Homo sapiens: one gene and its partners. The protein of the gene in region 2 interacts with the protein of the main gene of each other region in a pairwise test. Each region holds a gene or a part of one and is shown on either strand. Other genes may lie near its edges. The genes, in order: GET3, CAMLG, PKHD1 and OCIAD1.

Region 1 (7,132 bases), on a different chromosome or scaffold from region 2:
GTGTGTGTCAATCTTGCACTTGGCCAGCTCCTGGATCAGCCTCTCTGTCTCATACAGGGACAGGAACTCAGCAATGCATACGCAGATGAAAGTTGTCTGCTCCTACAGGGCACGAGAGAGGACAGTGAGGGGCGGGGTCTGCCCCTGTCCTCAGCCCCCGGGCCTCTCACCGCCAGCCAGACCACCACTCACAGGGTCCTTGAACTGTTCGCTGACTGAGCGGATGACGGGCAGCGTCTCCTCCAGCTTGGAGGCCAGCTGGTCTGCGTTCATGTCCCCCAGGCCCAGCATGTTGCACATCTGCAGGGGGGATGTGGGAGGGCTCATAGCTTACCTGCGGCGACCTCCTGGGTTGGGGGTTCACTAAACACCCGAGGGATGACTCCTGATACCTCCCAGTGGTTAAAGGCTCAGGCCCATAAGCAGATTCCTGGGGTTGGTCAAATACTAGCTTTTCCATTTCTTTCTTTCTTTTTTTTTTTTTTTTGAAATGGAGTCTCACTCTGTTGCCCAGGCTGGAGTACAATGGCGTGATTTTGGCTCACTGCAACCGCCGCCTCCTGGGTTCAAGCGATTCTCCTGCCTCAGCCTCTTGAGTAGCTGGGATTACAGGCGCGCACCACCATGCCCGGCTAATTTTTGTATTTTTAGTACTGGTGGGGTTTCACCATTTTGGCCAGGCTGGTCTTGAACTCCTGACCTCAGGCAATCCACCTGCCTCGGCCTTGCGAAGTCCTAGGATTACAGGCATGAGCCACTGCGGCCGGCCTCAGCTTTGCCATTTTTAGGGAACCATAGCTAAGGGGCTTGACCCTCCTGGAGCCTCAGTTTCCCCATCTCTAAACTTTACCTCCCAGATCTGTTGTACCAGATGAGCTGAAGCATATAATGTGCTGAGAATAGTGTCTGGCACACAGTAAGTGCTCAGTGTTACCACCTGAGGCACAGGTCCCCACAGGGGACACGCACACACCCACACGTGCACATACACCATGGTGGGTGGTGCTGGTGGTGTGCAGCACTGTGGGGGCTTTAGGGTTGTCATCGTAATAATAACCCATGGGGGCTGGGCACAGTGGCTCATGCCTGTAATCCCAGCACTCTGGGAGGTCGAAGTGGGTGTACTGCTTGAGGCCAGGAGTTCAAGACCAGCCTGGGCAACATGGCAAAACCCTATCTCTACAAAAAGTACAAAAATTAGCTGGGCATGGTGGTACATGTCTGTAGTCCCAGCTACTTGGGAGGTAGAGGCACGAGAATCACTTGAACCCACGAGGTGGAGGTTGCAATGAGCCAAGATCGCACCACTGCACTCCAGCCTGGGTGACAGAGCGAGACTCCGTCTCGAATAATAATAATAATAACCCATGGGGCACTCTCATGATCTCCATTTGCAAGACAAGGAAGGTGAGGCCCAGAGAGGTGAAGTGATTTGCTTGAGGTCACACAGCAGTTGGGTCACATGGTGAGTGTAGAGGGTTTGAAGGCAGGTTGCCTGGTTCTGGAATGTGCTTTCTGGCTCTGTCTAGGGTATTTAGCGGGCAGGGGCAGGGACACTGAGTCCTGCCTGTGGGGGAGGAAAGACAGCTCCGTCCCATCCCCTCCAGGGAGAAGTCCAGAGTGAGAAGGGGTGGGAAGGAAAGGGAATTGTTAGTGCGCATTTGAGGGTCTGGGGGCCCGGGCCTACTCCCACTCCCGGCTGCCTGGATGGTGCAGGTGGGGGCCCCCGCCGCCTGCCTGTGAGATGAAAGGGCTGATCTGGTTCTTGATCTGCATAAGCCGGCCCAGGCCCCGCTCCACGATGGTGGGGAAGTTGAGCAGCCTCAGGGTGTGGCCCGTGGGTGCCGTGTCAAATACCACCACCGAGAAGTTCATGCCCTTCACCAGCCTGAGGGGAGACAGGGGTCAGGCCCTCTGTGTCCGCTCTTCCCCTTCCCCAGGCAGCCCCCACCCCTGCTGGCTGGGCCTGACCTCATGACCTCGGCATAGCTCATGGCCTCATCGATGCCGGGAAATGCGCTCATGGCCTCCTGCATCATCTTCTTGCCCATGCTCAGCATGTTGTCCTCCTCGAAGAACTCGTCAGGCAGCTCCGCCACGCCCAGGCTGGGGTCAATCTCCTGGGGGCCAAAGGGATGAGACTGAGGTTGCTGCTACTGCTGGGGGAGCCTTCCCACCTGGGCACAGGGCCAGGGGGAGCCTTCCTACCCGGGCACAGGGCCAGAGGGAGCCTGTGGTGGGCTGTGACCACAGGCATTTCATTAGGTCACGGCTGGGGGGACCCTGAGGTAGTACTTAGGGTTTTGTATGGTTGCATAAAGGGTCAAAAACAAGGGGAAAATTGCAAGCTGTGCCCAGGGCCCTCAAAGGGAAGCTGAAACCCACTGCGGGCCATTTACACTGCTACTCCCCACTTGCAACCTGCCACTTGCAACCCCAGATACTCCCATGACTGGGCCATGACCTCTTCCGGATCATCATCCCTCCACTGAGAGACTCCCTGACCACCCTAAGTAACAGCACAGATCCACCGACACCCCTGCCCTGCCTTCCTTTCTCCTTAAGGTTTAGCCCTTAGGAGCTGGGCAGGATAGCTCACGCCTGTAGTCCCAGGTACTCAGGAGAATGAGATGGGAGGATCGCTTGAGCCCAGGAGTTGGACACCAGCCTGGGCAATATAGCAAGACCTATCTGAAAAAAAAATTAGCCCTTCCTCACATCCCTCATGATTCCCTTATCATGTTTATCATCTGTCTCCATAGCAGGAATGTCTGCCCCTCAGGGGCAGGGGTTTTACCATCTAGTTCACTGCTGTGTCCTTAGCGCTTAGCATGAACAGTGCCTGGCACAGAGGTCGTCAGCACATATGGGGAATCCAGCCAGGCGCGGTACCTCATGCCTGTAATTCCAGCCCTTTGGGAAGCGGAGGCGGGCAGATCACCTGAGGTCGGGAGCTTGAGGCCAGCCTGGCCAACATGGTGAAACCCCGTCTCTACTAAAAATACAAAAATTAGCCATGCATAGTGGCGGGTGCCTATAATCCCAGCTACTCTGGAGGTTGAGGCAGGGGAATCGCTTGAACCCGGGAGGCAGAGGTTACAGTGAGCCGAGATCACGCCATTACACTCCAGCCTGGGTGACAGAGGGAGACTCTGTCTCAAAAAACAAACAACAAAACAAAACACAAACATGTATGTAGAATCTATGAAGGGATGGCCATGGCTGGGGTCCCTGGCCAGTCTCAGACTCAATGCCTCCCTCTTTTTTTTTTTTTTTTCCCGAGATGGAGTTTTGATCTTGTTGCCTAGGCTGGAGTGCAGTGGCGCGATCTCAGCTCATCACAACCTCCACCTTCTGGGTTCAAGCAATTCTCCTGCCTCAGCCTCCCGAGTAGCTGAGACTATAGGCATGCCCCACCATGCCTGGCTAATTTTTTTTTTTTTTTTTTTTTTTGAGATGGAGTCTTGGCCGGGCGTGGTGGCTCACGCCTGTAATCCCAGCACTTTGGGAGGCCGAGGCAGGCAGATCACCTGAGGTTAGGAGATCGAGACCATCCTGGCTAACACGGTGAAACCCCGTCTCTACTAAAAATACAAAAAATTAGCCGGGCGAGGTGGCGGGTGCCTGTAGTCCCAGCTACTTGGGAGGCTGAGGCAGGAGAATGGCATGAACCCCAGGGGGCGGAGCCTGCAGTGAGCTGAGATCACGCCACTGCACTCCAGCCTGGGCGACAGAGCGAGACTCCATCTCAAAAAAAAAAAAAAAAAAAAAAAAGAGATGGAGTCTCGCTCTGTCACCCAGGCTGGAGTGCAGTGAGTAGCTGGGACTACAGGCGCCCGCCACCACACCTGGCTAATTTTTTGTATTTTTAGTAGAGACGGGGTTTCACTGTGTTAGCCAGGATGGTGGCGATCTCCTGACCTCGTGATCCACCCACCTCGGCCTCCCAAAGTGCTGGGATTACAGGCACGAGCCATCACGCCTGGCCATGCCTGGCTAATTTTTGTAATTTTTTTTTTTTCTGAGATGGAGTTTCACTCTTGTTGTCTAGGCTGGACAATGGCGTGATCTTGGCTCACTGCAACCTCCGCCTCCAGGGTTCAAGTGATTCTCCTGCCTCAGCTTCCTGAGTAGCTGGGATTACAGGCATGCGCCACCACCCCAGCTAATTTTGTATTTTTAGTAGAGACGGGGCTTCTCTATGTTGGTCAGGCTGGTTTTCAACTCCCAACCTCAGGTGATCCACCCACCTCAGCCTCCCAAAATGCTGGGATTACAGGTATGAGCCACCATGCCCGGCCAATGCCTCCCTCTTTATCTTCCTCCTCTGTCACCTCTTCTTGGTAACTTCATGGGTCCCATGGGGAAGTACCCAACTCGCTGGCCTTAGGGGTCATTCCCTGTTGGGGAGCTTGCCCACTCATCACTGCACCCTCTTCTTATGCTTCATATATTTTAAGCTTCTTTGGACTACTTCATCCCCTCACCTGGCCCCTGTAAACTGTCAGTGTTCCTCTTGGCTGGCACCCTTATCCAGCCCAGCCTCCACAGGTTCCCTCTGCAAACACTCCCTTTCCCCTTGCTGTTGGCAAAATCCCCCACTCTGGTTACTTCCAGCTTTTTTTTTCTTTCTTTTAGAGATAGCGTCTTGGCCGGGCGCGGTAGCTCACACTTGTAATCCCAGTGTATTAGGAAGCCAAGCCAGGCAGATCATTTGAGGTCAGGAGATTGAAAACAGCCTGGCCAACATGTTGAAACCCCGTCTCTACTAAAAAAAAATACAGGCCAGGCGCGGTGGCTCACGCCTGTAATCCCAGCACTTTGGGAGGCCAAGGCGGGTGGATCACGAGGTCAGGAGATCGAGACCATCCTGGTTAACATGGTGAAACCCCGTCTCTACTAAAAATACTAAAAATTAGCCGGGCATGGTGGCATGCACCTGGAGTCCCAGCTACTCGGGAGGCTGAGGCAGGAGAATCACTTGAAATCGGGAGGAAGAGGTTGCAGTGAACCGAGATTGCGCCACTGCACTCCATCCTGGGCGACAGAATAAGACTCCGTCTCAAAACAAACAAAAAAAACCCCCCCAAAACAAAAATTAGCCGGATGTGGTGGCGGGCGCCTGTAATCACAGCTACTTGGGAGGCTGAGGCAGGAGAATCGCTTAAACTCAGGAGGTAGAGGTTGCAGTGAGCTGAGATCACACCACTGCACTCCAGCCTGGGTGACAGAGTGAAACTCAGTCTCAAAAAAAAAAAAAAAAAAGATACCATCTCATACATAGCTCATTGCAGCCTCAAACTCTTAGGCTCAAATGATCCTCCTGCCTCAACCTACCAACTTACTGGGACTATAGGCACACACCACCATGCCCAGCTAATTTTGTTTGTTTTTTGTAGAGAAAGGGTCTCCCTTTGTTGCCCAGGCTGGTCTTGAACTCCTGACCTCACGTGATCCTCTTGTCTCAGTCTCTGCAAGCACTGAAATGATAGGTATGGCTTTCTAGCTCTTTAGTATCACTGCACTTGAGGGCCGAACACTCCTGAAGAGTATTCCCATCTTGCTCCTCACCCTTTTGGAGACGGAGTCTCGCTCTGTCATCCAGGTTGGAGTACAGTGGCACAATCTCGACTCACTGTGACCTCCGCCTCCCAGGTTCAAGCAATTCTTTGCCTCAGCCTCCCGAGTATCTGGGATTACAGGCGCCCACCACCAGGCCCAACTAATTTTTTTTTTTTGAGATGGAGTGTCGCTCTGTATCCCAGGCTGGAGTGCAGTGGCATGATCTCGGCTCACTGCAACCTCCGTCTCCCAGGTTCAAGCAATTCTCCTGCCTCAGCCTCCCGTGTAACTGGGACTACAGGTGCCGGCCACCACGCAAGGCTAATTTTTGTATTTTTAGTAGAGACGGGGTTTCACCATATTGGTCAGGCTGGTCTCGAACTCCCGACCTCAGGTGATCTGCCCGCCTCAGCCTCCCAAAGTGCTGGGATTACAGGCGTGAGCCACCGTGCCTGGCTTATTTTTGTATTTTTTTTTTTGAGATGGAGTCTTGCTCTGTCACCCACGCTGGAGTGCAGTGGCGCGATCTAGGCTCACTGTAAGCTCCACCTCCCGCGTTCACGCCATTCTCCTGCCTCAGCCTCCCGAATAACTGGGATTAAAGGCACCCGCCATCACGCCCGGCTAACTTTTTGTATTTTTAGTAGAGATGGGGTTTCACCCTGTTAGCCAGGCTGGTCTCAATCTCCTGACTTTGTGATCCGCCCACCTCGGCCTCCCAGAGTGCTGGGATTACAGGCGTGAGCCACCATGCCCAGCTAATTTTTGTATTTTTAGTAGAGATGGAGTTCCACCATCTTGGCTAGGCTGGTCTTTAACTCCTGACCTTCTGATCCACCTGCCTCAGCCTCCCGAAGTGCTGGGATTACAGGCATGAGCCACCACGCCCGCCCTTGCTCCCCTCTTCTGAACACAAATCTCCAATGGGCACTTGATGATCCAGACAATTCTGGTTCCCCCTGCTACCTTAATAAGTGTTTATGTGGTATTTTCTCCCTCCTCAAACTTCTATCCCATTCACTGCTGAGACCCTTGCCTGTTCCTTGGTGAGAAAGAGAAGCCATTGGCTGCCAACACCCTCATCTCTGCCCGGGAAGTGCCCCAATTCCTCCTGTTTCCCTCCCAGTCCCTGACCCTGGCAGCGCCCAAGTTCTGGGTCTGTATGCTGGATGGAGCTCATCCCACCTGAGGACTGTCCTCTGCCAGCATCCTCACTCTGCAGCATCTCTTTATTTTATTTTATTTTTATTTATTATTTTTTGTTGAGTCTCGCTCCGTTGTTCAGGCTGTAAAGCAGTGGCGCGATCTCGGCTCACTGCAAGGTCCACTTCCCGCGTTCACGCCATTCTCCTGCCTCAGCCTCCGGAGTAGCTGGGACTACAGGTGCCCGCCACCATACCTGGCTAATTTTTTTGTATTTTTAGTAGAGATGAGGTTTCACCGTGTTAGCCAAGATGGTCTCAGTCTCTTGACCTTGTGATCTGCCCGCCTCAGCCTCCCAAAGTGCTGAGATTACAGATGTGAGCCACCGTGCCCGGCCTTTATTATTTTTTTGAGACAGAGTGTTGCT
Region 2 (7,810 bases):
GCAGTGAGCCCCGTTGGAGCCACTGCACTCCAGCCTGGGCAACAGAGGGAGACTCTGTCTCAAAGAATAAAAAAAAGCATGGGGACTGCCTGAGCAAGGGAGGCCAGAAACCTTAAATTGCCACTCTCCTAGAGTAGCAGAAATCCTCATCAGTGTCACCCTGGGGTAACATCGGAGAGTAACATTATCCAAGGAGCCAAATGATTTTGTCCCAAACCACGGCAACATCCACACATTTATATTAACTTTTTTTTTTTTTTTTGCGACGTAGTCTCCCTCTGTCACCCTGGCTGGAGTGCAATGGCATGATCTTGGCTCACTGCCACCTCCACCTCCTGAGTTCAAGCGATTCTCGTGCCTCAGTCTCCCAAGTAGCTGGGACTACAGGCGTGTGCCACCATGCCCGGCCTGTTTTGCAGTGTTTATAACATACTAAAAGTTAATATAGGCCCGGCGCGGTGGCTCACGCCTGTAATCTCAGCACTTTGGGAGGCCGAGGCAGGTGGATCACCTGAGGTCAGGAGTTGGAGACCAGCCTGGCCAACATGCGGAAACCCCATTTCTACTAAAATTACAAAAATTAGCTGGGCATGGTGGTGCGCGCCTGTAATCCCAGCTACTCAGGAGGCTGAGGCAGGAGAATAGCTTGAACCCAGGAGGTGGAGGTTGCACTGAGCCGAGAGATGGCACCACTGCACTCTAGCCTTGGCGACAGAGTAAATAAATAAATAAATACTGTAAAACAAAATATTCAGTACCATCTAAAATTACATTTATTTCATGAGGTTCATTACTTGGCTTTCAGTTTGTTATACTAAGCTCCATTCTCATTAAGGAGAGGACTATTGACATGTCTCCTATTGAAACTGTTAATTCACTCTGTTTCTTTTAAACTTTGAGTGTTTAAGGGTGTTTAACAACTATACTTGAGAAAATTATTGAAATAAAATTTCTGGCTGGGTCCAGGGGCTCACACCTGTAATCCCAGCACTTTGGGAGGCTGAGAAGATTGGATTGTTTGAGCCCAGGAATTTAAGACCAGCAACATAGAGACCCCATCTCTACAAAAAATTTTTTTTAAAAAATTATCTGGGCTCGGCCGGGGACGGTGGCTCATGCCTGTAATCCCAGCACTTTGGGAGGCCAAGGCGGGCGGATCACGAGGTCAGGAGATCGAGACCATCCTGGCTAACACGGTGAAACCCCGTCTCTACTAAAAATACAAAAAAAATTAGCCGGGTGTGGTGGCCGGCGCCTGTAGTCTCAGCTACTTGGGAGGCTGAGGCAGGAGAATGGTTTGAACCCAGGAGGCGGAGCTTGCAGTGAGCCAAGATTGCGCCACTGCACTCCAGCCTGGGCGACAGAGCAAGACTCCATCTCAAAAAAAAAAAAAATTATCTGGGCTCAATCCTGTAGCCTTAGCTACTCAGGAGGCAGAAGCAGGAGGATTGCTTGAGCCCAGGAGTTCAAGGCTGTAGGCTGCAGTGAGCTATGATTGTGCCCCTGCACTCCAGCCTAGGCCATAGAGTAAGACCCTGTGTTTATAAAAATAAAAATTTGACTCATTATGGAATTTAGAGGAAGTAATTTGCTAATTTCTGAAAATTGTTCTTGAATTTCTTTTAAGCAGTTTCATCAATTCATTCTTTTACTCTTTTTCTTTTGAGACAAGGTCTAGCTCTATCACCCAGGTGGTTGTGGAGTGATGCAATCATGGCTCATTGCAGCAAACTTCCTGCCTCGTTTTAAATTTTTTTAAATTTTTTGATTTTTTTTTTTTTCTAGAGACGAGGTCTCACTATGTTACCCAGGCTGGTCTTGAACTCCTAAGCTTAAGCAGTCCTCCCACCTTGGCCTCCCAAAGCGTTGGGATTACAGGTGTGAGCCACTGCGCCTGGACTCTTTTTTTTTGTTTTTCTGAGACAGAGTTTCACTCTGTCGCCCAGGCTAGAGTGCAGTGGTGCAATCTCAGCTCACTGCAACCTCTGCCTCCTGGGTTTGAGTGATTCTCCTGCCTCACCCTCCCGAGTAGCTGGGATTACAGGTGTGTGCCACCATGCCTGGCTAATTTTTGTATTTTTAGTGGAGATGGGTTTCATCATGTTGGCCAGGTTGGTTTCGAACACCTGACCTCAAGTGATCCACCCACCTCAGCCTCCCAAAGTGCTGGGATTAAAGGTGTGAGCCACCGCACCTGGCCTCCCGATCTCTTTTCTTTGTTTTTAAATAGAGAAGGGGGTCTCACTATGTTGCCCAGGTCAGTCTTGAGCTCCTTGCCACAAGTGATCCTCCTGCCTGGACCTCCCACATGCCAGCCCAGACATTTTTTATAATTCTGTTCAAGTTCAGTTATACGGCTTCCTCAGTTTCAAGGAGGAATGAAATATTACTTGGAAATAATTTGCTTGATGCTTATATCATTGAATATAACACTATAATTCTAATTTAGCTCCTCAAACCCTTTCTGGAACCGTCTTGATTGATCAGGGCTGTGCCTCATCAAATTCTGCACATTTGTTACTATTTGACAGTTATTTCCATTATTTTCAGTTGTGTGTAAAATTGTTTTAAGGAAGTCTAGGGCTCAGAGATCTATGTCTGTGCAGATATGCAGAAGAACTTCCTCTAATACTTTAAAATTATTAACTAGTGGATGTCCCTGGGATTTAACTTTCATCCAATCAAGGGTGAAAGTTCAGTCTGTATATTCTTTGAGCTCCTTATGTTGTTGAATCCAAACCGAAGTTTCTTTTGTTTTCACTTCTTTTTCAGTATTAATATAAATATAGTATTTTATTATCTTCTAAGTGGTATTTCACCCACTTCCTTATTTTGAGGGTGATTGTGTGGCAGGCTTAGTTGCAGGGGGCCCACCCAGTAAGCTGCTTCAAAACCCTCCTCAGCCTCAGGTGTGAACTGGCCATGCTCCCTGTTAGCAAGGGTTGATGGATTCAATTCCTTCATTCATCTAATCATTCACTTAGTAAGTCATTACTGAATGCCAAGGCTGCATTATGACTTTCAAGGGCCCTAAGCTCTTTTGCCTTTGTGGCTCCTTCCTGCCTGAAAACATACTTAAAATTATATTTTATGACTGTATTGCTATTAATGATGACTATAATCCAGACTGGATCCATTACAATATAGCAAATATATTATTTTTTTCTGAAAAAACTTTTTTGAGATGGGGTCTCACTGTGTCACCCAGTCTGGAGTGCAGTGGCCCGATCATTGCTCACTGCAGCTTCAACCTCCCCAGGATCAGGTGATCCTCCCACCTTAGCCTCCCAAGTAGCTGGGACCACAGGCACACGCCACCAAGCCCGACTAATTTTTGTATTTTTAGTACAGTCAGGGTTTTGCCACGTTGGCCAGACTGGTCTCGAATTCCTGGCCTCAAGTGATCCACCCATCTCAGCCCTCACAAAGTGCTGGAATTACAGGCATGAGCCACCGCGCCCAGTCATTTGTTCTGATTTTATTTTATTTATTTCTTTTATATATGTATTTTTGAGACGGAGTCTCCCTCTGTCGCCCAGGCTGGAGTGCAGTGGCATGATCTCGGCTCACTGCAATTTCTGCCTCCCAGGTTCAAGCGATTCTCCTGCCTCAGCCTCCCAAGTAGCTGGGATTACAGGTGCATGCCACCAGGTCAGGCTAATTTTTGTATTTTTAGTAGAGACGGGGTTTTGCCATATTGGCCAGGCTGGTCTCGAACTCCTGACCTCAGGTGATCCGCCTGCCTCGGCCTCCCAAAGTTAGGATTACAGACGTGAGCCACCGCTCCCGGCCTTTTTGTTTTTTTCTTTTCTTTTCCTTTTTTTTTTTTGAGACGGAGTCTCGTTCTGTCGCCCAGGCTGGAGCATCTTTAGCATGCGAGGTGGTCATGAACGACAAGGAGAAAAAACAAGGTGAAGGGGAATGGGGAGTGTTGGCAATTTAGATAGAATGTGCACGAAAGGTTTCAATGGGAAATTCTAATTTGAATAAAAACGCACAAAACGCGAGGAAAGCCTAGGAACACATCAGCCGTATACTTTGCCGTAGAGAAGTTAAGGATGAGGAACAGGCACCAAGAACAAATCCCAGCGTAAGGCTCCCTTTAAGTGCGGCTCCCAGGGTTACGTATTCCCATTGCCTACAGGCGAGGCCGCGGGTCTGTAAACAAGCGACTGCCGCTGCAACCTCCATTTTGCTTCCTGGCACCAAATCTAGGCTGACCTACTTACTGCCATCCCTTTCCCACTCCCGGTTTTCTTTTCTTTCTTTTTTTTTTTCTCGAGACAGAGTCTCGCTCTGTAGCCCAGGCTGGAGAACAGTGGCGCGATCTCGGCTCACTGCAACCTCCGCCTCCTGGGTCCAAGAGATTCTCCTGCCTCAGCCTCCCGAGTAGCTGGGATTACAGGCGCGCGCCACCCCGCCCGGCTAAGTTTTTGTATTTTTAGTAGAGACGGGTGGGGGGAGGGGGGAGGGGGTCACCATGTTGGCCAGGCTACTCTCGAAATCGTGACCTCGTGATCCGCCCGCCTCGGCCTTCCAAAGTGCTAGGATTACAGGCGTGAGCCACCACTCCCGGCCCTGGGTGCTGGTTTTCTTCACCTCCGAGTGAACAGCAGAGGGGGCTGTTGGGTGAGGGCCAGAAGAGTTGGGGAGGCACGAGGGCGTCCAGCGCTGCCCTCACTCAAGATGGCGGCCAGAGCCTCGCGCTTGGTCGCGTGGGGCGGTGCGTGAGTGCTTAGCTCACAGGCTCCGGGACCGCGCTCGGGGGCGGGTCTATAGTGGGAAGGGGACGCGCGCCCTGCGGCCCGGCCTCTAGTCATCGCCCTCGCAGCGGCGGCCAACATCACCGCCACTGCCACCCCTCCCAGACTGTGGACGGGAGGATGGAGTCGATGGCCGTCGCTACCGACGGCGGGGAGAGGCCGGGGGTCCCAGCGGGCTCAGGTCTGTCGGCTTCCCAGCGTCGGGCGGAGCTGCGTCGGAGAAAGCTGCTCATGAACTCGGAACAGCGCATCAACCGGATCATGGGCTTTCACAGGCCCGGGAGCGGCGCGGGTAAGAGCCTCGATTTCCCCTCAGTCTCCCGCCCATCACCTTGAATCTTCAGGGTCATTCTTCCCTCTCCCACCTCCACTCCTCTGACCTTTTTGACCAAGCCTTGCTCTTTGATTTCCTCTCTGTCCCGCCCCTTCGGTGATATCCCAAGTTCTCATCCCTGAACCCCAGGATGTTCCTAGTCGCTCCCCTCAATTTTCCCGGGGCCTCGCCGTGAGATTTTCCCCACCCTGCCTGCAGAGCTCTCACTCCCTCTTCCCAGTTACGTTGAACAGCCCCTTTTTTCCTTAGCCACTCCTCGCCTTTCTTGAAGGGCGCACGTTGTATCCCCAGACTGTCATGTCTACTGCTCCCCTTAGGAAGATGGCTTTCCTTCTTAAGGTTCCAAGTGCTTTTCCTTACAGTGCCTTCTCTAGCGTCTACCTTCTTTTGCCTTTTGCTGTGTAACTCCTGTCCGCCCACATCAGCCTGTCTTTACTGAACTGCCCGCTAGTTCATCCTACGTGTATCAGGGACTCTTGTGCTCATATCCTAGTGTTTGTGTTCAGTGCCGTCAACACTGTCACCTACGGGCCGGCTAGAAAAGGTGGGAAAAGTGAGAGTGAGCATTCTTCAGAGACCCAGCAAGTGCGAAGTGCACACCTGAGAGTTTCCTCTCCTCATGAGGGGATATTGTTGTGATTGATGTCTGGAGCTGCATTTCTAAGGAGAGCGCCTCCTTCCTCCCCCAAACACATGTCCAATGATTTTCTTTAAAAAAAATTTATTTCACGTGAGTATAATTGAGCAATTAGCGCGCCCTAGTGTTATCTAAGTTTCCAGTGTTTCCTTTAGTAATTGGCCTTTAGTCACTGGTCGCAAGCTCCTTATATCTTTGTGACTTTTGTTCTGTAAGGCTTTAGGTGTATAGCTCTGAACTTTTAGGCAGTTCAAATGAGAGGTAAGAAAACCATTTCAAATTCTTCTAGAACAATAGAAGAAACATTTTTCTATCGGGCTATTTATTCTTAAAGCATTATTTATGATCTTACCTGAGGTACTTTCTATATTTTGTTCTTTTGCTTTGAAAATTTTATGTCTTTAAAGGTTGTTTTATTTTTTGAGACAGGGTCTCCCTCTGTAGGCCAGGCTGGAGTGCAGTGGCATGATCATAGCTTACTGCAGCCTCAAACTCCTGGGCTTAAGCAATCCTGCTACCTCAGCCTCCGGAGTAGCTAGGACCACAGGTGTACACCACCATGCCTGGCTAATTTAAAAAAAAATTGTGTGTGTGGAGATGGGGGGGTCTCACTATGTTTCCTAAGCTGGTCTGGAACTTCTGGGCTCAAGTGATCCACCAGCCTTGGCTTCCAAAAGTGCTGGGCTTACAGGATTACAGGTGTGAGCCATTGTGCCTGGCCTTTTTTTTAAAACAAAAACAAAAACAAAACCCCAGAGTAGTGTCTTAAAACTGCTGAAGTGCCTACTAATGGCTGCCTGACTACATAAACAGTAGCTTTGGGATATGCCACACCCTATGCTCATAGGGCACTGGATTCAGAAATCTAATTTTAAAATATAGATTTTAAAAGGCTTTACTGATTTTATATTTTTAACCAAATAAGCTAAGGCAGGCAATGCAATCATACATCTGGGATATATTATCCATAAAAAGTTGGTCTTTTCAGCTTGCTCCATCTCTGAATATCTTTCCCAGTTTGTCTACTAATCTTATCTCCTACCCACAAAGTTTGGGTTATTTCCTCTGCAGAATATTCATTTTGGGTGATACATTTTGAGGGTGTAGAGGAAGAATCCAGCTTTTTTCTTTTTTTTGTTTTGAGATGGAGTCTCACTCTGTCGCCAGGCAGATGCAGATGGAGTGTAGTGGCGCAGTGTCTGCAACCTCCTCCCCCCGGGTTTCAAGTGATTCTCCTGCCTCAGCCAGAGTAGCTGGGACTATAGGCAGCTGGGACTACAGACACACGCCACCACACCCAGCTAATTTTTGTATTTTTAGTAGAGACGGGGTTTCACCATGTTGGCTAGGATGGTCTCAATCTCTTGACCTCATGATCCGCCCGCCTCAGCCTCCCAAAGTGTTGGGATTACAGGCGTGAGCCACGGCACCTGGCCGAAACCAGCTTTTCTTTAATGCAGAATCGGTATTTATTTATTTTGATGCAGAGGCTGCTGAGTTCTAGCTGCAACAGCATATTTTAAAACATAAACATGTAAGGTGTTTGCCAGTATGGAATAAATACATAAGGCTTTTACATTTCTTTTCTCAGAAGAAGAAAGTCAAACAAAATCAAAGCAGCAGGACAGTGATAAACTGAACTCCCTCAGCGTTCCTTCCGTTTCAAAGCGAGTAGTGCTGGGTGATTCAGTCAGTACAGGAACAACTGACCAGCAGGGTGGTGTGGCCGAGGTAAAGGGGACCCAACTGGGAGACAAATTGGACTCGTTCATTAAACCACCTGAGTGCAGTAGTGATGTCAACCTTGAGCTCCGGCAGCGGAACAGAGGGGACCTGACAGCGGACTCGGTCCAGAGGGGTTCCCGCCATGGCCTAGAGCAGTACCTTTCCAGATTCGAAGAAGCAATGAAGCTAAGGAAACAGCTGATTAGTGAAAAACCCAGTCAAGAGGATGGAAATACAACAGAAGAATTTGACTCTTTTCGAATATTTAGATTGGTGGGATGTGCTCTTCTTGCTCTTGGAGTCAGAGCTTTTGTTTGCAAATACTTGGTAAGAAAAGATCTGTAAATTATT
Region 3 (7,132 bases), on a different chromosome or scaffold from region 2:
TCATTTATTCCTCACCAAGCACTAATTTTGCACATACCCTCTGCAACACTGTTCCTAGCAGAGGAGGTAGAGCAGTGAATCAGACAATGTTTTGAACTTCAATCTTCTATTGTATCTTAAATTTCCCATTGTGGACTCTATCTCTCTTCCATAATGTGTTTATATACATGATGATAATAGGAAACTCAATTTCTAGCATTTTAACAAAAATTTTTTTCTCCTCCCCTTCTTCTTCCTCTTCCCTCTTCCCCCTCCTCCTTCCCCTCCTTCTCCTCTTTGTATAAGACAACACAGCACAAATTTCCATCACAATAGCATTATCCATCATTAAATTCTCATCCAAGCTCAGATGATGTGGTGCTTTTATCATTTTGTAAATCTTTAGCCCACATTCAAGTTGCAGACAAATAAATTAGGAATAAAACTTAAACACTACACAGAAAGGAGGTATGTAAACGGTTAAGTGCACAGGTACAAGATTTATGATTAGGCAAATAAGGTAATCACCTGGCTAAATGTGAGCTATCTCAAATGTAGTAAGGTCCTGTAGTAATAACAGTAATTTCTTCCTTTTGACTTTATTTCCTGAAGCTCAGTGGGGTATTACCATGTGTTGTGAATCCCCAAGCTTTGCAACTTACTCTCTCATCTCTTTCCCCACAAAGACACGGCTTCTCATACCACAATTTATATGATCACTACGCAGCTTAAAGTAGTGAGCAATTGTGGTGTTTTACTGAATAAGAAATAAGTAATTATGTGAGTATTGCAAAACAAGAAGACAACATGAGTGTTGGCTCTTTTGCCTATAATAAGAAACCGAAAACTGAACACACAAAGCTAATTTTCAAGTGATATCCAGCTTGAAAATCTCCATCCCTTTACTGGTACCTCCAATAAGCAGATGTCTTCAGCAACCTCACCTCAGAACAAAGCCAAGAGCTTGTTTCCTCCATGACTCCTATAGCTGTCATTGAAACTAATATTCAGAATTCAGAATTACTTCCTCTGTCATCCTAAGACTGCAGTTAAGAACACAGGTGATAAGTGTTTCAATATTCATCTAACATTGACATATTAATATGACAAAAGTTATGATGAATCATTTTAACAGGTGGCCTCAGATTCTAACTATCATTTTAGATGAGGAGTAGAGAAATTCTTTTCCTAGGCACACATAGAGAAATTAGTAGTCAGTACAGCATTAATCACAAAAATAGAATTAACCAAAGAATATCATTTCCATATATATGCTTTAAAATATATGTGTGTGGCATCTTTACTCACCATCCAGGGGCAGAACCAAGCAGCTGAAGGCAGACACTGTAGCATTAGCCAGGACTCGGCAGGGAGCACCACACACAGCAGCTGAGACATTCCCTGGAGAAAATCCCGCTCCAAACACATGCACCAGCCTTCCACCCAGGCAGCCTTTAAAGACAAAGGTACAAGTTCTTGATCATACAGGCAAATCTCCCTTCTTTACTCAACTCAAAATTCAAACATTTGCTTCCTCACTACCCATTCTTCTTTTCACATCCTCAGAATCCGCACAACTGGCTTGAGGTGGCTGCTGGCCTCAGTTTCCTCTCCACTTAGGCTCTGGCCTTGTCTGACTCCAATCACATTCAATATCCTATTGTGTTAAAGAGGTTTTTTTTTAATGTAACAATTTTTATATGGAAAATTAATGCTTATTTATAGTTTTTAAACTTTTTATTCAAAGAGCCATAAAATGAAAATAAAAATTCCCCCAACCATCTGACTCCCTCCCCGGAGGTACCCAGGTATAGAGTTTCTTATGGCTCCTTCCAGAATTTTTAAGCATCTATGTTTCTGATTCAAAGCATTATTCTATCCATATTATTCTGGAACTTGCTTTTTTGCTTCAAAGTATAGCATAGATGTTTTTTCAAAACTCTATGGATCCAGTTCATTTTAGTAGCTACTTAGAATTCCATTATAGGGCCCTGCTACAATTTATTTGACAATTTTCCTATTTATTGAAATTTCCATTTTTTCTCCTCTTTTGCTATTGTTAATAGTGATGCAATAACTGTACATGTTTTGGGACATTTGTATGAGTAAAACCAGTCCACATTTCTAGTTTACACTGAGATACAGAGTTCCCCTCACTACTGCCTTCATACCAGGTCTAGGTGGTACTTAGCCACTTGACTAACTCAAAAATAATGCTTTTGGTTTAAGATGCATTTCTTATTTCCCTGCTCTTCCATCATAAAAAAACATGGAATCTTAGGGAGTAGTGCCTTTATCAAATAAGGAAGCTGAGTCTCAGAAAAGTCAAGCATAAATTAGCAAAATTAGTGATAGACTAGAGCCAAATCCTAGTCCCCACAGTGTTCCACCAAGCTGAGACCAAATTTTTTCTAAGAAATGTCTTAGTTAGTACTCCAACAGTCTAAGATTCTGTTTCTATAGTTTTTTTCCTTACTTTCTAAATCACAACCAAATTTGAACTATCTCAAGTGCAACAAGGCTTTAAGTGAATAGAAATTGAAAGCTTTTCTTCACTGGAGGGAAAGGCTAGGCAATTTTTGGTATATCTAAACGGAGAAAACAGTCCAACCAATTTAATTGTTCTGTGCATTTGGCTTATTATTGTTGAAATATGAGTCCACCTGTGAAATATTACAAAATGATAAAAATTTAATCATACTTAATAAATTTTAAACAACGCAAATTGGCAGATAGGGTCTAAAACTAGGTGAAGGCATTTACGTTCTTAAATGATCAAATTATGAGCTCTTACAAATGGTGTTATTTAATTTAAAATACAAATCCAGTTAATGCATCAAATTAAAATACAATCAAACATTTAGAGAATATGCACAGTTTCCTTGATAAAAATAAAAAAAATCTTCATAAACAGAGCATAACAAAGACAAGCCTCAGGAAGGAATTGGGATTGTAAGAAGCCAGTGGGCTTCTCTTTCCTTCCATCAGGCAGATTGTGTTAATTTTCTACTTTCCAGAAGTGAAAGGAGCTACCAATTCATTTACATAAAGAAAGTGTGCTGTCTTATTTGCTTGACTTACCGAAGTTCTCCGTCACTGCTGTAATAATAACTCTTGAGGTGAACACCAGGGCAGATGAGGCCCACCCTCTGATGCAGTCATAGCCTCTGACGTGGTACTCCCCGGCCGGAAGGGAAGGGACCACGCACTGAAGAACGGTGTGGTTACCAGAGACACCCACACAGGGTGACATTCCTATAAAAATGTCAATGTTTGCAGCTCCTGAGATCTGGGCCACTGCAAAGGTTAAGATGTCATCGCTCTGAGAAATAGAGATCAATTCTGGGGTAAAGGCCTTGTTATAACCAATGACTCCTATGTGATACCAAAGTCCATCTACCTCTATTTCCAGGGCAACAGAGCCATTCCCTGTGGGAACAATGCACCGGATGAGCTCAGCACCGATGTTCACCGTCAGGCAGGTCTGCTGGTCAATATAGACTGACGTGGTGTTCTGTCCTCTCAGGCCTGTGCCCTCTATGGTCAAGAGGCTTCCACCATGTAAGCTGAAATTCTTAGGAAAATAATGAAACACTTGGGGCATAATGTAGAAGTGTCTGGAAACATTACCAGAACAAGCATACCCATTTCTTGTATAAAAAACTGACAGGTAGTGGGGTCCTGGGGCCAAGTCTCTTGTCTGGCACACAACGTGGCTTGCATTAAAAAAAGTTACATTGCAAGGAAGTTGATCATCCACAAATACCATCGGCTCATCAGCTGTGGTGGCTAACCTCTGACCCCTAATCAGCACAGTGGTCAGAGACCCACTGGTGTTTGTGGACAAGGCATCCATGACAGGACTTGCCTCTTCCCTTATGAAAAGAGTGCAATTCCCCTGACACTCGCTGGTTAGCCCATTGACCAGGACTGTGACGTTCAGGGAGAAGGAAGCTCCAGGCAAGGGGTCACCCTCCAGGCTAACCTGGCAGAGAATGGTGTGGTCTCCCAAACTCAAAATCACACAAGTAAAAGGACCCGAGAGGTCAACCCGAACTGACCTCCTTCTAGAGTTAAGAAGCAACCCCCTCACAGTAAGTATGGTCCCACCACATGCCGAACCCTGCGATGGGAAGATGGCCATTATCCGAGGCATCACTGCAAATTGCTGGAGCACCACAGACATATTAGCAAATCCCATCTGCTTCTGACGTACTTGGAGAGGATAGATGCCAGCCTCCAGACTGTGAAGAGGGATGGAGCATCCAGACAGGCTCACGTTGCCCTGGAAGGACTGTGTCTCAACATCACAGTTCAGGTTCCCCAGAAGGATGACTGAGTTGGAGAGGTTACTTCCTCCCACATGCAGGCTCAGGCTGCTATTTGTGATTTCTCCTTGCATGGCAGTGACTACTGGTGTTGCTGCCGCTTCATACATGAAGGTGAAGCCTTTCCCCACCAAGCTTGGTGAAGGACCACGGGCGAAGAACCTGTTGCCAGCCCAGACCTCCACGGCAGCTGGAACAGTGGGAGCGCCCGCATCGGGTATCTGGGGGGCTGGCAGGGTTTCACACCAGATGCTCGCCTCCGTTAAGTTCACAATGTCACAGGACCGATTGCCCACAAGTACCCAAACCAAAGCTGGGTCCCTGCTGAAGCCTATTCCTGAGATGCTGAGGATGGTCCCTCCTAAAGTATGAATACGGAAAGCAAAATATTATAGCTGATATTCTGAACTAAGAATTCATAGCACCTGTGGAAGTCCTAGGTCAATTAAGTGGAAGGTAGGGCATGTGTTAGTGAAACCTCAATTATTTTTTCTCACCCCCACCAAAGCTAAATTTGTGATTATTTAGACAGGAGTCAGATGTGGTAAATTCACATAACAGTAAAATAATACAAATTGTTATATAGGAAGGACGTCTTCAACACAAACTTTTCAAGTACCTTTGTATATCCCAGAAGCCACCACTTTAATCAACTTACACACTAATGAAAAATCAAATTTCTTAGTCTTCTTATCATGTATTATATTATTGGAAATATTATCCTGTATGCTATATATAGACTATTTGTACATTGTCCTGTATACATTCAACTTATATGCTAATGAAAAATCAAATTCATTGAAGTCTTCTATCATTTATATTGTTCTATATAATATTCCAATATTCCATATATTATACATTCTAATATATTCTATTTATTGTACCATATATTCTATATTCCATATACGTGAGAGACATTAAAAGTCATTGAATCTTGCTGGTGAATTTGCTGCTACCTTCATAGAATCTTTGCCTTACTCTCCAGTAGAGAGGCCACCAAAGATCAAACCCCATCTTCAGGACAGGATTGGAGCAACATGACCCACAGCATAACCAAACTGTACAACGTGGCTTTTAAGAGGATTTTACTATACCCAAAAAGGATAATGTGCTATCTTACACATGATCACAACTATTATTGACATGCCACTAGATTGTTTTCCATTCTTTCTGAAAATAGTTTTAGAGATTGGTCTATTTGTCTTGTTCTTCCATCTCCCATATCAGCATGTGTGTTTCTATTTCTGAGTCTTTCATCTGTCTCTCTCATGGAAAGTGAAGACCCGCAGATTCAATCCTCCCCTCCTTGCATGCACAGCATCTAAATGGCGAATGCAGGACATGTTGCCCTTGTTTTTCTCATATCCACTCTAGAGTGTCACCCATCAGACGTTTCATCCTCTTTTCATTAGAAAAGCAGGCACATCTCGGCTGGGCACGGTGGCTCATGCCTGTAATCCCAGCACTTTAGGAGGCCGAGGTGGGCAGATCACCTGAGGTAAGGAGTTCAAGACCAGCCTGGCCAACATGGTGAAACCCCATCTCTACTAAAAATAGAAAAATTAGCCAGGCATGATGGAGGGCACCTGTAATTCCAGCTACTTAGGAGACTGAGGCTGGATAATTACTTGAACCCGGGAGGCAGACATTGCAGTGAGCCAAGTCAGCACCATTGCACTCCAGACTGGGCAACAAGAGCGAAACTCCGTCTCAAAAAAAAAAAAAAAAAGAAGAAGAAGAAGAAGGAGAAGAAGAAAAAGAAAAAAAAAAGAAAAGAAAAGCAGGCACATCTCCTTGTCATAAAAATTCCTTAATTTCCTGAGCAAATGAATCACCAAGTTTTAACACCCTTTTAAAAACACCCCTCAGTTCCTGGAGCCCGAGGAAAGTTTCTCTCCTGTTTCCCCTCTCTCTGACCTCACTGGCAAATTAATCCAGAAACAAAATCTGAATATCCAGCAAATAGAATTGCTGGATAATTGATAACAGTCACATAAGAGCCACTCACCCAGCAGGGACCCACAGCAAGGCTCGATGCTGAAAACTTCTGTGAGGTACTGGATGTGGAGATCAACCCTACAGAAGATAGGCAGATGTTTAGGAAATAACTGACAGAGAGAGATAAGAAAGAGTAAGCCAGAAGAGCCATATGTATTTTGAGGAGAAGAGCAAACTGTCTGTAAGTTCTCTAAGATTTGTTCCAATGTTATGATGTTCATGTCTTTAACCTCTAACTTCCAAGGGAAAAAGAAAATACCTAACTCAAAATTAGAATTACCTAGCTGAATGCTAGACCATCAAACAAATCCAAAATTAATGCAAGTGGTCACCTCACCCTTGTGAGTGAATGCTGACCCCATTGATAGAGACGGAAATTCTGTGGAGACCAGCTGGCAGTGGGGGCAGTGCCACCTCCAGGCCCCAAGCCGACTGTGTGTGAACCGGAGCCAAGGCATCCTGGACGTGGACTTCCACATCCAAATCCGTATAGTTCATCAGCCTCGCCACTCCAATGACCAGGGTCTCACCGCCTGTGTTGAGAAGAATCCAATAGCCTCTGACATGTGGGGTTTGTGGGCTCAACCATCTATTCAATTCTAAAACTGTCTTTTTGGATTAAATTCACAGTCACCCCTATGCATAATACTCTTAAGAGTTACGATACCAACCTAAATTTTTCAAGAAACTTCTAACAACTATTTTTTTTTTTTTTTGAGACAGGTCTCATTCTGTCACCCAGGAGTGCTGTGGTGCAATCTTGTCTCACTGCAGCCTCAACCTCCAGGGCTCAAGCAATCCTCCCAACTCAGCCTCCCAAGCAGCTG
Region 4 (8,088 bases), on a different chromosome or scaffold from region 2:
ACCAATTCTTTGTTAAATAGTGAGAGTATATTTTGTATACTGCTTCCAACAATCTCTGTATTTAAAAAATACAATCTTGATATATATATATACACAAATATATATATATTTCTTTAATCAGAAATCAAGAGCTGGTAGTATAACAACATTTCACAATGATAAAATGGGAACTAATCTGCTATTATATAATGGTTAAAAGCATTAAGAGTAAAATCTGTTTCAGACAGACCTGTTTTCAACTCCAAACATCGTAATTTATCACCTGTGTAACACTAAGTGTTGCCATTTAACATCTCTAAACCTCAATTCCTTCACCTGTAAAGTGAGGGTAATAATAGTTATCAACCTTATTGGGTTGTTTTTATATAATCTATGTACACACAGTAAATGCTAACTATTACTATTATCAACAAAATTACCTCATGGTTTTGTTAAAAATCTGGAAATAATTACTTTAAAATGTGTGCAATTCCTTTATCTCCTTAATCTCTTTTAACAACAACCACACTATGCAAAAAGTTTGCCAATTTGTTCTATACGGAGTTATTATAATTTCAGGTTCAAATTCAAGTCAAAATTTCAGGTACAAATTTTGGATCAAATTATATTAATTAGAAAATTGAACTCACATCTGAACCAGAAGCTTTCATCATTGCATTCTGCGAAGACTCTCCTTTCTTCCTCTGTTGGAATGTAATCAGGCCCTATGTCTTTTTACCAGGGAAAATCAGAAAACATTAAATTATCCATAATAAAACTAGGTCTGAAAAATTATCTTAGCCTAAACATTAACAAGAGGCACCCATTTTTTAAACTCAAATAATAAAACAACTGGCTTATGCACTTTTTTTGTTTTTTGAGACAGTGTTTCACTCTTGTTGCCCAGGCTGGAGTGCAATGGCGCGATCTCGGCTCACTGCAACCTCCACCTCCCGGGGTTCAAGCGATTCTCCTGCCTCAGCCTTCCGAGTAGCTGGGATTACAGGCACCCATCACCACGCCAGGCTAATTTTTTGTATTTTAGTAGATACGGGGTTTCACCATGTTAGCCAGGCTAGTCTCGAACTCCTGACCTCAGGTGTTCCACCCATCTCAGCCTCCCAAAGTGCTGGGATTACAGGCATGAGCCACCGAGCCAGGCCACTTATACACTTTCAACAAACTTTGACTTCAAATAGAATTAATGCTACTATCTGCTAGTCAGGACTGGCTACCTAATGTGCTGGGCCCAGTGCAAAATAAAAACGTGGGACTCCTTATCCAAATGATTATGAATTTCAAGATAACAAGACTAGAACATGAAACCAAGTATGGGGCGCTGTCTGCACATGCCCATGAAGCCAGCCCACCTGCCACTGTTACTCAAGGCAGTGAAAATTCCTTTACATAGGAAGTGCTTCTAATTATAAATACTTAATAGATAGTTACGGGGAATTGGTCTTGGAACCTCTGCATTCGGCTCTCGAAAATCAGCCCTCCCATTCATCTTTCCTGTATCAAAAACATTACATATTAAGTATTAGAAACTATCACTAGATAGGTCAAAGTAAATCAAGACGTATGATATAGTAAAACTACTAGTCTACACAGCAATCAATCAACAAATATTTATTAAACACTACTATATCTTACGTACTCCACATGTAAATAGCTAGATGAAAAAGTAACAGACCTACTGATTAATTTGGAACTCACTATTCAGGTTAAGTCCCTTAATTGAAAAAGCATATGCGTTTTATAAGTTTATAATTTTTTTTACTATCAAGATATCAATAAAATAACAGACATATTTTTTCCTCCTGGAAGTGGGTTCTTTCACATCCTATGTTTTGGTCGTTTCTCGAATCTATGCCCAATGATTAGGATAATTCCCCAAAATAGAAGAGAAAAAAAATTTCAAGTCATTTCTGAGCTTCCATATTAAAAAATGAAATAATCATCAGAAACATTCAACCTCTCCCACAAAGGAGCACTCCAAAATTATGGAATAACAAAGACGACATATCCTTCTCCCTGTGAGGTAAAACTAACAGCAAATTCTGTATCTCCAAATTTCCTTCCACCCCAAGAATATAAGAAAAAAATGCATAAAATTCCAAGAATATACATTTTTTATTTGGTTCTTTTTTTAAAAACTCATATATTGGGACTCAGACCAACAGATCAAGTAACCGTATTTTACAGAACGTTTACGTGGGATCATGATTATTCTCATTTTAAAAACAATTTGCATGGAAACAGGAAATGGCATACACAATGAGGACAGCAACTGAGCCCTTCCATAATTCATTCAGTCAATAAGCCATGAAGGCCTACTACATGCCAACCCCTTAATTAGAGAAAAGAAATAAAAAAGGTCAGCTGAATTCATGGATGGATGGAGCCTGCTGAATAAACTACCTTTACCCTACAACCGTATGAGAAAAAATGAAACCCTCTTATTTCCCATAACGGCATCCTTCCTAGAAACACCAGGAAGACTGTCAGGGCTGACACGGCGCTTAAGACAATACCATTTTAAGTTCTTTACACAAAACAACGCTGGATTAAAGCCTAAGCGGCCTACAACCGCTGATTACCGCACTCCATCCTCCACCCAGTGTCCGTCTCCCACCTGCCGTTACAGACTGAGCAGCAACCCCACACGCATCCGTGACCACGAACTTCCCCAGCTCACACCCCCAGAAGCACTCCGTCGCCTCCCGCAGTCACCGGCACTCAGGAGGCCGAGACCCGAGCGCGATCTGTCCACCCTCACAGGCAGGAAAATGGCGGAAGGTGCGAAAGTCGTGGATGGCCGCAAAGGTGGTGAGGGGATACGCGGAGGGCAACAACGGGGCTGTTTGCGTCACCTCACCCACCTCCCGACGACAGCAGCAGGCGACTGCAAGGAAAACCAAGCGATCAGGGGCAGAAGGCCCGGAGGGTGGACTCGAGAGGGGGCAGGGAGGGAGAAAAGTGCAAGGTACCGCGGGGAGGGGGAGGGGTAGAACAGCCGCAAGAAGTCATCCAGACAGGGGCTCAAAATGACCGCGACCCGGAGGCACTGTATACTTACGGCAGGAAATGACGTCAGACCTCACTGCGGGTCTGAGAGCCAGCAGCCTAGGAATAGACGCATGCGTATACTCGTCCCTTTGCCCTTTCAGGCAGCTGCGGCCACGAGCCGCACTGCGACTGCGCAGGCGACAGCGGCGGACCAAGAACCCTGCCCCGCCCCTTCCCTGGATGGCGGGGAAGGGGGTTGGGAGTAGGCTTGACTTTGGGCTGTTGTGATGCACCTCTCTGGTCTTCTCGTGGCGGCTGGCGGGAACGTTCCGGAACCCTCTGTTGTCCCTCTTTTGAGAGCGACTTTATAAATTATCTCTTTTATGAGATAATTTCATTCTTTGAGCCTGTAGGCTAAGTAGTAGAAAGTAATTTTTAAGCATGCATACCTGGTTATTTGTCACACCCTCTTGATCCAAGTTTCCAACAAGTTCTACAACCTCTGGCAGGGTACCGTGATCTCTCTGAGGCTACGGTTTTTCTCACCTGAAAAGTGGAATTACATATAGGGTTGTTAGAATTAAAACAACACATCACTGTCTATTAATGAGGGGGCTCACGACTTCTACACATCAGACATGGTGCTGCCACACCCAGCCAATCAGCATTTTACTCATTTTCATACATTCCTTCCTGAAGTATTTATTAGTGCCATGTACTGCAAGTTATTAGTGACTAAACAGTGGGCAAATCCAGTCCTACTATTTGTCAACCCCTCAAAGCCTCTCAGGTTTCTCATCTCTTTCTGAGCCCCTTTGCCACTTTATCATTTAACATTTATTCTCCCGAAGACATACTTAAGGGAGACAGTCACGTGAAACGAATCCAACGCTGTGTTTCCTTCCTTGGAGTCTTTTGATAGCTCCAGTCATGCACCGAATATAAGGCCCATCATGGCCTGGTGGTGCCTGTGCCTTTTGAGCGTCACTTTCTTCTATTTCAGGGTTCACTAACAAGAAACAGCCTGGAGGTCTTTGCCCTCAGTGTTCTCTGTGCACTGTTTCCCCAGTACAACTCTACTCCCTGCTTTGTCAATTCTAACGATATTTCAAAATTCTGCTTTTACATCACCACCTTTGTGATGCCTTCCCTGAAATACACCCCAGAGAAGTAATCACTCTTCCTTCTTAGTCCTTAGCTTGTCCATACTGCTGTCACTGCAATGTACTTTTGCACTGAATAGTGATCTTTTTTACTTACGTCTGTCTCTGTTACAGAGCTCCTTTAGGACAGAGATGTTGGCTTGTAAGTCTTTATAGAACCAAATAAATCCCTGAGATAATCAGTATTAGTAACTAATACTCATTTTGTTCCTGGGACAAGCTAATTTACTTCTGGGCCCAGGGCTTGTGCAATTGCTGTTCCCTCTTCTAGACCACTGTTCTTCCAGATGTTCAACGTGGCTTTTTGTCTGAGACTTCAGTTGATGTCACCACATCAGAGAGGCATTCCTTGACCACCCAATTAACATGGCACCCCAGTCACTCTCCATGTTACCTTGCTTATTGTTTTCATAGTATTTGTTATGGTCTAAAACAATGATTTGTTTGTGTATTGTCTCTCTTCACTAAAAAGGTCTATGACAGTAGGAGCCGTATTTGCCTAGCATCAGTGATTGGCACATGATCATATGAAGCCAACAAATATTTCTTAAATGAATTTGTTGAATGCATTTTTATAGGAGAAAAAACAAAAATAAGAAAATTAAAAGACATTCTAGAAGAAACAAAAATAAAAAAATTAGAAGACATTCTAGGTGGTGAGCTTTATGTTAAAGCAAAGTTTTTTGTTGTTTTTTTTTTTAGGACAGGGCCTTGCTCTATTGTCTAGACCGTAGTACAGTGGTGCCATCTCGGCTCACTGCAACCTTCGCCTCCCAGATTCAAGCAATTCTTGTGCCTCAGCCTCCTGAGTAGCTGGGACCACAGGTGTGCACCACCACGCCCAGCTAATTTTTTTATTTGTAGAAGAGACAGAGTTTCACTACTTTACCAGCCTGGTCTCCAATTCCTGGCCTCAAGTGATCTGCCCACTTTGGCCTCCCGAAGTGCTGGGGTTATAGGCATGAGCCACTGCACCAACTTTAAAGCAAAGTCTTTTTCTTTGCTTCCTGACTAGATTGTAAGATTCCAGAATCCAGTTTTATCATATTCTTTATACTTACTGAGCCAGGCCTAACACATAGTGTGTCCTAAATTGGTGGGTTCTTGGTCTCACTGACTTCAAGAATGAAGCTGCGGACCCTCACGGTGAGCGTTACAGTTCTTAAAGATGGTGTGTCCAGACTTTGTTCCTTCTGATGTTCGGACATGCTCGGAGTTTATTCCTTCTGGTGGGTTCGTGGTCTTGCTGGCTTCAGGAGTGAAGCTGCAGACCTTCGCAGTGAGTGTTACAGCTCTTAAGGCGGTGCATCTGGAGTTGTTCATTCCTCCCGTCTGGAGTTGTTAATCCCTCCAGGTGGGTTCATGGTCTCACTGGCCTCAGGAGTGAAGTTGCAGACCTTCACAGTGAGTGTTACAGCTCATAAAGGTGGTGCAGACCCAAAGAGTGAGCAGCAGCAAGATTTATTGCAAAGAGCAAAAGAACAAAGCTTCCACAGTGTGGAAGGGGACCTGAGTGGGTTGCCGCTGCTGGCTCAAGAGGCCTGCTTTTATTCCCTTATCTGGCCCCACACACATCCTGCTGATTGGTCCATTGTACAGAGAGTTGATTGGTCCATTGTACAGAGAGCTGATTGGTCAATTTTGACAGGGTGCTGATTGGTGCATTTACAATCCATGAGCTAGACACAGAGTGCTGATTGGTGCATTTACAATCCTTTAGCTAGACACAAAAGTTCTCCAAGTCCCCACTAGATTAGGTAGACACAGAGCACTGATTGGTGCATTTACAAACCTTGAGCTAGACATAGGGTGCTGATTGGTGCATTTACAAACCTTTCCCTAGACATAAAAGTTCTCCAAGTCCCCACTAGATTAGCCAGACACAGAGCACTGATTGGTGCATTTACAAACCTTTAGGTAGACAAAGAGTGCTGATTGGTGCATTTACAATCCTCTAGTGAGACATAAAAGTTCTCCAAGTCCCCACCAGAGTAGCTAGATACAGAGTGCTGATTGGTGCATCTACAAACCCCGAGCTAGACACAGAGTGCTGATTGGTGCATACACAATCCTCCAGCTAGACATAAAAGTTCTCCAAGTCCCCACCCAACTCTGGAGCCCAGCTGGCTTCACCTAGTGGATCCCATGCCGGGGCTGCAGGTGGAGCTACCCGCCAGTCCCACGCCACGTGCCTGCAATAGCACATGGTAGATTGATAAGTCTATTTTCTGTTGCCCCCTAATTTCTCAGCAATTAATCAATAAATTGAGTTTCTGTTGATAAAAGACTATGAGCTCCTTCTGTGGGAACATATAGGATTCTAAAACATTCAAGTAAACTGTCACTTTGCATTTGTGCTGGCATTTAGAGGTTATTGAGTCTTTTGGTAATTTGGGTAATGCAACAATCAAAGAATTCAAACATAAATTGGGCAAGATCCAAAGACTTGCGGGAAGTCGATACACATTTGCTAGAGATGGGCTGTAGGATTTATTAGCCAACTCAGACTAATGTGTTCTAATCTGGAATGGTGAGATCACCAGAAATCGATCCACCTGGATTAAATTAAATCAACAGTCTTCATGATACCTCCATTGAGTTAAGATCTAATGAAATGTACCATAAGAAATTTCCACTTATTAGACATCACTTAAAAAAATTAATAATAAAGGGATAATTTATACTCATTAATGTATATAAATGAAATCAATGTAGTGAACTTCTACTTCATTTCAGTGTCAATAAAAGATTTATTTTCAAATGAACGCTTGAACTTCCATAATTGATAATTATTCAGCGATTATTCAAGCAATCATTATTCAATAAATTATTATTCAGCATATTTCTATTTATGTTCCATTAGAGCAGAACTTGTGTTTTATTAGTTCACCAGACTATCTAGTTTAACACATATTTATTATTCAAAATGTAGTGTCATAGAAGCCAAAGGAAAAGAATCTTCTAAGAAGGAAGAAATGGTCAATTATATCAAATGCTGGTAAGGATGGAGAACTATCCATTACATGCAGCAATAAAAAGGTTATTTATAACTTTTGCAAGTGTAGTTTTATTAAAATCTAGATTACAATGGGTTGAGAAAAGAGTGATTGGAGATAATGTGAGGAAAAGTGTACATTACTCTTTCTGGAAGTTTAGCTGTTTAGAGAAAGCAAGATAGAGTGGTAGCTGGAGGAAAAAATAAAAATGGATGAAGGTTATTTTTTGTTTTGGGTTTTTGCTTTTATGATTTTTAATTGACATAATAATTGTACATATTTATGGGGTACAACATGATATTTTGAAATATGTAAGTGTGTAATAATCAAATCAGAGTAACTAGCATATTCATTACCTCAATGTTTTTGTTTTTTAATTCCATAGGCTTTTAATTGTAATTGGCAAAGGGAAAGAACCACTAAAGAGAAGAATTGAAAATATAGTATTCCAGGAATACTATGCAGCCATAAAAAAGAATGAGTTCATGTCCTTTGTAGGGACATGGATGAAGCTGGAAACCATCATTCTCAGCAAACTATCGCAAGGACAGAAAACCAAACACCGCATGTTCTCACTCATAGGTGGGAATTGAACAATGAGAACACTCGGACACAGGGTGGGGAACATCACACACTGGGGCCTGTTGTGGGTTGTGGGGAGGGAGGAGGGATCGCATTAGGAGATATACCTAATGCTAAATTATGAGTTAATGGGTGCAGCACACCAACATGGCACATGTAAGCATATGTAACAAACCTGCACGTTGTTCACATGTACCCTAGAACTTAAAGTATAATTTAAAAAAAAAAGAAAATATAGGAGGGAGGCCAAGCACAGTAGCTCATGCCTGTAATCCCAGCACTTCGGGAGGCTGAGATGGGCGGATCACTTGATGTCAGGAGTTCAAGACCAGTCTGGCCAACACGGCGAAACCCTGTCT

The links.
Region 1: the proteins of CAMLG (region 2) and GET3 interact in binary tests that used the Homo sapiens proteins (3 or more experiments, as listed by UniProt).
Region 3: the proteins of CAMLG (region 2) and PKHD1 interact in binary tests that used the Homo sapiens proteins (3 or more experiments, as listed by UniProt).
Region 4: the proteins of CAMLG (region 2) and OCIAD1 interact in binary tests that used the Homo sapiens proteins (3 or more experiments, as listed by UniProt).

What each region holds. Positions count from the first base shown.
Region 1 is NC_000019.10:12,740,365-12,747,496, reverse strand, and holds part of GET3 (ATPase GET3), read right to left. Parts: intron 2,121-7,132; coding exon 1,972-2,120; intron 1,889-1,971; coding exon 1,738-1,888; intron 301-1,737; coding exon 193-300; intron 103-192; coding exon 1-102.
Region 2 is NC_000005.10:134,733,738-134,741,547, forward strand, and holds the start of CAMLG (guided entry of tail-anchored proteins factor CAMLG), read left to right. Parts: upstream 1-4,810; 5' UTR 4,811-4,883; coding exon 4,884-5,055; intron 5,056-7,325; coding exon 7,326-7,786; intron 7,787-7,810. UniProt on the Homo sapiens protein: Required for the post-translational delivery of tail-anchored (TA) proteins to the endoplasmic reticulum.
Region 3 is NC_000006.12:52,021,514-52,028,645, forward strand, and holds part of PKHD1 (fibrocystin), read right to left. Parts: intron 6,839-7,132; coding exon 6,643-6,838; intron 6,384-6,642; coding exon 6,316-6,383; intron 4,669-6,315; coding exon 3,061-4,668; intron 1,432-3,060; coding exon 1,288-1,431; intron 1-1,287.
Region 4 is NC_000004.12:48,826,023-48,834,110, reverse strand, and holds the start of OCIAD1 (OCIA domain-containing protein 1), read right to left. Parts: upstream 3,024-8,088; 5' UTR 3,010-3,023; coding exon of another isoform or gene 2,970-3,009; 5' UTR 2,862-2,969; exon of another isoform or gene 2,590-2,861; coding exon of another isoform or gene 2,580-2,589; intron 1,492-2,579; coding exon of another isoform or gene 1,487-1,491; coding exon 1,429-1,486; intron 711-1,428; coding exon 630-710; intron 1-629. UniProt on the Homo sapiens protein: Maintains stem cell potency. Increases STAT3 phosphorylation and controls ERK phosphorylation. May act as a scaffold, increasing STAT3 recruitment onto endosomes. Involved in integrin-mediated cancer cell adhesion and colony formation in ovarian cancer.